Homo sapiens: one gene and its partner. Each later gene encodes a partner of the first gene's protein in a complex. Each region holds a gene or a part of one and is shown on either strand. Other genes may lie near its edges.

What was found. Proteins that work in one complex are often made in the same cells at the same time.
Region 2: TAF1D (region 1) and TAF1A share a complex: the UniProt entries of both Homo sapiens proteins name them as parts of the transcription factor SL1/TIF-IB complex.

The regions. Positions count from the first base shown.
Region 1 is NC_000011.10:93,734,911-93,738,496, forward strand, and holds the end of TAF1D (TATA box-binding protein-associated factor RNA polymerase I subunit D), read right to left. Parts: coding exon 3,199-3,586; intron 2,330-3,198; coding exon 2,154-2,329; intron 1,842-2,153; coding exon 1,784-1,841; intron 1,395-1,783; coding exon 1,251-1,394; 3' UTR 657-1,250; downstream 1-656. UniProt on the Homo sapiens protein: Component of the transcription factor SL1/TIF-IB complex, which is involved in the assembly of the PIC (preinitiation complex) during RNA polymerase I-dependent transcription.
Region 2 is NC_000001.11:222,583,315-222,587,071, forward strand, and holds part of TAF1A (TATA box-binding protein-associated factor RNA polymerase I subunit A), read right to left. Parts: intron 984-3,757; coding exon 814-983; intron 1-813. UniProt on the Homo sapiens protein: Component of the transcription factor SL1/TIF-IB complex, which is involved in the assembly of the PIC (pre-initiation complex) during RNA polymerase I-dependent transcription.

The sequences.
Region 1 (3,586 bases):
ATGCCCCAGTACCCAGCTAATTTTTAAATTTTTGTGGAGATGTGTTTCTTACTTTCTTGCCTAGGCTGGTCTTGAACTCCTGGTTTCAAGCAATACTCCCACCTTGGTGTGGGGATTGCAGGCTTGACCCATTGCACCTGGCCTGGAACCAACCTTTATGGCTATCAATACTCCCATCAATCAACTGTCTCAGGTATCATAATATCCCTTCTTATATGTATCAAAACTCATACTGAACAATGAGTTCTGGGTTGCAAAAGAGGATTTATTTTTTGCACCTATCTGTAAGTCTTTGTCCACGTTAAACAAAAACATACATAAGTGCAGTCCCAAAATGCACTACATAGCAGAGTAGTCAGCTCTATCGTGGTGATCAAAATAATGAACATCGGGGTAATGACTGGTTCTCCCCAGGTATACATGTTGAATAAATGTGTATGCCTTTTCTTGAACTAATAAAAAGTGAAAATGGTAGTTAAAAGTAGTATTAGGCCAGGTGCCATGGCTCACACCTATAATCCCAGCATTTTGGGAGGCCAAGGCAGGCGGATCGCCTGAGGTCAGGAGTTCGAGACCATGGTGAAAGCCTGTCTCTACTAAAAAAACAAAAACTAGCTGGGTGTGCTGGCTAACGCCTGTAATCCCAGCTACTAAGGAGGCTGAGGCAGAATCGCTTGAACCCGGGAGATGGAGGTTGCAGTAAGCCAAGACTGCGGCCATTGCACTACAGCCTGGGTGACAGATCGAGACTCTGTCTAAAAAAAATAGTATTAAAGATACTCTAAATTTGGAAAGGGAAATGAGGTTATTACAATACTAAGCATCTGACAGGTCACTTGTCATGGCTGAACAAAGCTGGGATAAAATTACAGCATTTCAAATCCCCTCTTCAAGATGGTTGGGTGTCAAGTTACTTTAAGATTTTCTTTTCAAAATTAAAATCACTACATTTCATTGTTTCAATACTCACAGGACACCTGTAAGCTCTTATTCAGAAATCAAATGACAATTTCTCAAATTTTTCTATGTATTTTCTCTGGTGTTTTAATGGTTTTTTTTCTAATTATTACTACTTCACAAGTTTCTTTCACAAACTTCTTCACAGGGTTAAAAATTTTTTTTCTTGTTATAAAGTTCTGGGTTTCAGAATTTCTTCACCACCAGACTGGTACATATATCCACATTTATCTTTATTCATTTCTATGAAGTCGTTTTTTCTATATGCTTCACCTTTGACATTCATGATCCTGTCACATTTTCAGGCCTCTCTGTCCAGTATTTTTGGCTTTTGTAGCTCTCTTTTTAGACAAAGCAGCTTCTTCAGTAATATCCTCTTCTTCTAAGTATACACTCAGTCTTACAGGGAATTCAGAACTTACTATGAAACTATCCCCCTGCATAAAACAAACAAAAAATCATGGATTAAGCAATAACTCAAATAGTTTAGTAATTACATATAGCTGAATGCCCTGGATTACTTCAGATAACCTAGAGACTACATGTAGATGTTAAAAATCCAAATTAACATTGCTTATTTTTTCATTTGACATCCTAACTAGCAATAATATGTATCAGAATGCTACTTATTAAAAATAGTACTGAAAACCCCATGTTCTTTATCAAGTCTCTAAAAAATTATTTTCCTTCTTGCATTTCCTGCAGTAAACTTATAGAGCTTTTCAAAAGTTAAATGAAGTGTAAGAGAAAAACTAAATATAATTCCTTCTGTATCAACCAACTCCTGCCTTCCCAAAATGGAATAGGAAAAAAATAAGTCACTTACTGCCAATTTGATATCACATTCGTTATCTTCAAGATGTGTTGCATCCTCATCCTCTGCTCTGTAATATTAAAATTTATCATCGAGATGACAGAATCTTCGATGACCTAATTAGTTGTATATTCCACTCTGAAATATAACTGAAACTGCAATACTAGTCAAAGGAAACACAAAATTTGAGAATTTTGTGTTCTGGAGAATTCTAGATGAACGGTGTGCCAAGCTTGGCTCAACTGTAATAATCCCAATTGTCATACTCTGTATCTTTGTTCATTATTTAAGTATAACTATATTAAAGGCAAAATATGAAGCAATTAACATAGAAATTTAATTTATAACCTATTACCAAAGTATTTCATATGATTCCACTTACGTTGACTCCTCAATAGGAGAAATGGATCCATCATCATCCAAAAATTTGTATCTACGACTGTCAAAATCTTCATTTTCTAAATCTTCACCAACATTCATTTGCTTCAATGATTCTTTCAGGTGGTGTTCATACTTCAGTTTTTCAATATAGTTAAAAAATCCTCTTGCAACAGCTTGCTATATATTAAAAACACCATAAGTATGTCGAGATTTTATTTTTAAGACCCAGCAGGTGCCTATGTTCAAAAAGGGCAATGCCCCCCCTTAGCAAAGACTCTGAATTTGCTATCTTAACTACTCCCCACTTGTGGACTTATCAAATGCTGATTATTAAAATTCACATTACAATTATGAATTTACCTAAGCTGGTAACATGGAAAAGTGAAGTACATATCTTGTCATGTCTGGGACTTACTAAAGGCATTTTAAAATGTAAAAACAGGAATAAGATTTCTAATGTTTACTATAATCACCTTAAACTTAAGAGATTAACTGAAGAGATTAACATGTATTAATCCTCCCAAATAAAATTTCAGGTTCTGGCAAGGGATCATAAATTAATTCTGAATTCATTCAACATACAACTCTCAAATATTTAAAAAAGTCTACTCCTAAGTATTAGCGTATTTTTCAGATAATTGGCTTAGAAACATCTAGGCCTTAAGAATATATCCACTGAACATAAGGCATGTGTGGTTTTAGTTTAGGTTACTGCAAAAGTAATTTCAAGTTATGTGAGCTTTTATTATCCCCACTGAGTTTTAGGGTTGTGTTTAAAGACCTGAGATGGGATAAGATCAAAGGATTTTATACAAAGAGCCTTGGAGCACTATCTTTTAAATATGGCAAAGTGTAGTTATATTAAGAGATACAAGTCAAGATTCAGTTGAAGGATAGGGTGGACTTTAGGGGTAAGTCAGTATAGAAGAGTATCAAAATTGCAGACAGTCTGTTCCCAGTATATCTGAGACAATTCTAAATTGGCCAACAAATCATTTTGGGCATCTTGAGTTATGTGTAGCCATGTATGTAAAATGCTGACTCACCTCAAACGTTAAAATTTTTCTCCAAGGTGCGTTTTTTTCATTCTCTGATTCTAAAAATGGGAAGCCAGATCCTCTGCTTCTAAATTGTTTCTTCTTATCTATTAGTGAGTATATAGGATTTCTCCTTCCTTCTGGTCTTCCCCGTGGTCTTCCTGTTGGCTGGTACCTCCTCTTTTTCTTTTTTTTATATCTCTTTTTCCTGTTCTTGAATCTTTCAAAAATAGCTTTTATAGTCAATGGTATTGGTTCAAAAGATGAGTCACTTGATGAATCACTTGCGTGAACACTTTCAGGTGTACGAACAAATTTTCGAATGGGGTTTCTTTTCTCCCCTTTAGGTGAGTAAGGGATACACTGAGTTTTAAATAAGCTGCTATCAGAAGAGTTA
Region 2 (3,757 bases), on another chromosome or scaffold:
TAAATTTAGAGTGTGGTAATGGTTGGTTGCACAACTCTGTAAATGTATGAAAATACATTGAATTGTACAATTTAAGTGGGTGATGGCGTATAAAAAACGTCTTGATAAAACGAAAAAAAAAAGGATCACTCTAGTTGGAAAAAGAGAACAACTCTTTCAAGAAGTTTTGCTGAAAGAGAGTAAAACAATGAAGTATAGTCTATGGGGGAAGTTTGGGTCAAGAGATGATTTTAAGATAGAATAGGCTGGGCATGGTGGCTCACACCTGTAATCCCAGCACTTTGGGAGGCCGAGGCAGGCGGATCACGAGGTCAAGAGATTGAGACCGTCCTGGCCAACCTGGTGAAACCCCGTCTCTACCAAAATACAAAAAATTAGCCGGGCGTGGTGGTACATGCCTGTAGTCCCAGCTACTCAGGAGGCTGAGGCAGGGGAATCACTTGAACCCAGGAGGTAAGAGATTGCAGTGAGCCGAGATCGCGCTACTTCACTCCAGCCTGGCGACAGAGCAAGACTCCGTCTCAAAAAAAAAAAAAAAAGATAGAATAACAAAATTTTTACATGATGATGGGAAACATCCATAAAGAGGGGGGAAAAGGAAGAATTATTGGAATGAACATTTTAGTCCCCTTTAAAATAAGAGGTAAAAAGAAGTGTGCAAAAAAGGTCCCAATACAAACTCTCCACTCAAAAGTAGTTTTAGTAGCTTTTAGCAAAATCACTGAGATTCTGTAAAAGCTACTGTAGGTGAAGCTGTAGGCATAAACTTCTGGGAATCTATCATTTCTTCCAGCAAACTCAAATTTTATTTACCTCAGGTGCAGCCTGCCTTTTGTAGCTATCTGAATCTTCCAAGGTCTGAAAATAACTGTACATGTATTCTGCAGCTTGCTGCCATTGGTGCTTCAGCAGAGCTTCTTGGATAAAACTTAAACAAGCACTTGTTGTCTGAGCAAAATCCTTCCTCCTTTTCCCTCCAATGGCTATAAAAACGAAAAAGAAGAGAGTTTTTATCCAAGTGGCTCCAGTTCAACTATTCAAAAAACTTACTTCTGATAAGAAGTTTTAACAAGTAAACAGTAGGCATTACTTGACCCAGCCCATTCCCAGTACCAAAGCCAGCTTCACTTGAAACAAACCCTTCTACATTATATTAATTATTTTTAGCAGATAAAAACATTTCTAATTTGATGTTTTGGGGCTACTAGAGTCACCAGATCCTTTAAATCTGATTCAATCATCCTTTCATCCTTGTACCAAATAATTTGCGGAGAATCTCTCAAACAGGCCCCCAAAAGCACAGTCCCAGGTATTTAGAATGGGTAAAATGTCAGGGTCATTCTAGGCAAACATGGTCTTTATTACCTACCCATGTTCTGCAAACCCCAAGTGGGCTTTTATTTTTTAAGGACCAAATTCCTAGTAACTCAATGATATTATATACAAATGAGATTAAAACAGTTGCAAAAATTAGCATTTATATCTCTAAAGTATTGGCAATCCCAATGTTAAGAACATTTGGGCTTAGATACAGTGCTATTATATGAATGACTAGTTACATTGCTACATCTTCTTATCTTCCCACGTAACTATGAGACCCCTCTAGTCCAGCTGGGTAATTGTACCCCAGTAAGTACACAAAGACCAACAGGTACTTTACAAAGATACTTTTAAAACAATTAACTTGCAGATATTTGATTTCCTTACATACTCTTTCCACAAGTTAATCTCCTAGACAGCTGTGCCTACATAGTCAAAGCTTCACAATCAAAATCATTACACACTATCTGAAGGTGAAAACACAGGTGTTGAAAAAGTAAATAACTCTAACATCTCCTTTTGCAAGTTAGGCAATTCCCAATTCTTTGCTCATCAAAACTGCAGAACAACGTAATTTTTTACAATAAATCATTATGCAATTTTTCATCAATAATTTAGAAAAAATTCACAGACCTGATACACGGCTATAATTAAACTCCATTCACTGCCATCTACTTACTTATGTGACTAAGGTTTCTCAGAATTTATGTCAATTAAAAAAAATAGCAGAATCAATGCTAAATGTTTTCTCATTCTAGAAATACATAAAAGTCACCCACAAATACATAAAAAATTGGGGAAAAGTTTTAGATAACTTTATTAAAAAAAAAAAAAAAAGAGTCTTGCTCTGTCACCCAGGCTGGACCGCACTAGCACAATCACAGCTCACCATAGCCTAGACCTCCTGGGTTCAAGTGATCCTTCCTTTTGGCCTCCCAAAGTGCTGGGATTATGAGCATGAGCCACCACACCTGGCCAACAACACGTTTAATACACGTTATATTGATCAGCTGTGTACAACTATTAATGATAGCAATGTCTCAACCTAGAAAAAGTTTTAATTCTTAAAACTTACAGGATATAAACAAAAAAAGTATAAATATTGATACATACTTTTATTGCAAGAAGTACAACAAAGAGGAACATAAAATGTCCATCTATTAAAAGCTTGTTCATAATTTTTTTTAAAATGAATAACGCAAGGTATTAAAACCCTATGCCATTCCTGTGCTATTTGGACTCCATCACATATAAAGTAATATATAGTCATTTAAAAATACCAACATGCTGGAAATTTTATCTCTTGCAAATATTAAACATACAATAAAATTTTTTCAGATGATTCCTTAAAACTATGCAAGGTAGTACTCAATTTTTCAGAAAAAACTAGGGGATACAAAAGTGAAAAGTTTGAAGACTACTGTGCTAGACTAGTGTTCTCAGACTTTTGAATGTACATACAAATCACCTGGGGACCTGCCCTTGCTACTCAATGTGGTCCTGGCATGCAGCAGAAGTATCACCTGGAATCTCATTACAACTACAGAGTACTATGCCCAGCTCTCTCAATCAGAAGCTGCATTTTATAAGATCTACACCAAAGCTGCTCGGCATCAGTGGCAATACCTGCCAGCTAGCCTAGGAAACTGACAAAACACCTCGTCCTTAAAACATCCCTTATTTACCTAAAGGAGAGAACTGTTCTCAGGCTAAGCTCCCTTCTATCGCTCAAGCTTTCACAACTGAGATTATAAATTGACTTTAGATAACTATACCTAAATGTTTGGAAAATACTTTTGTCTTCCAACCTAGCCTAGCTACCTCAGGAAAAGTTCTCCTCTCATTTCATTCTTTAATGAGCAAAAGATAGTCTTACTTGATCCTGATGACTTTAAGAAAAAAAAATTGTCAAGGAAAACACATTTTTACATGGAATAGAGATGTACAATAAAGAACTAGTGTCATCAACCTAACTTCTAATATGCTACTCAAAGAATCTGGAAACTTATCAATCTGTCAACAAGTATTTTTTGGGCACCACTGTGTCCCAAGCACTATCGCAGGTACTCATCATACAGCTTCAATCCAGACTGGCCCTGTCTTCAAAGTTTTTATTCTAAGGGGGTTGCTGGGCATGCCCTTCAAAAAGCCAAAAGATATCTACCAGCATAAAAAATAAATAGAACAATTGTTAGGCAATTTTGTTTTCCTATTATGGTTAATTACCAGCACAATGTCAATATTAATTGCAAGTATTTTCTCATTGCAGACCAAAAGTATTTTCGGTTTAACAGGCTATCCATGACATATAAAATATTCCTAAGCATGTAAATTTTGGTCTTTGGTCTTAAACCTATCTGCTTGCAGACTGACTCAGACTTTCTATAGAACACTGGTAACAGAAACATACCCAAGTATGACTTAACTATAGGAAATT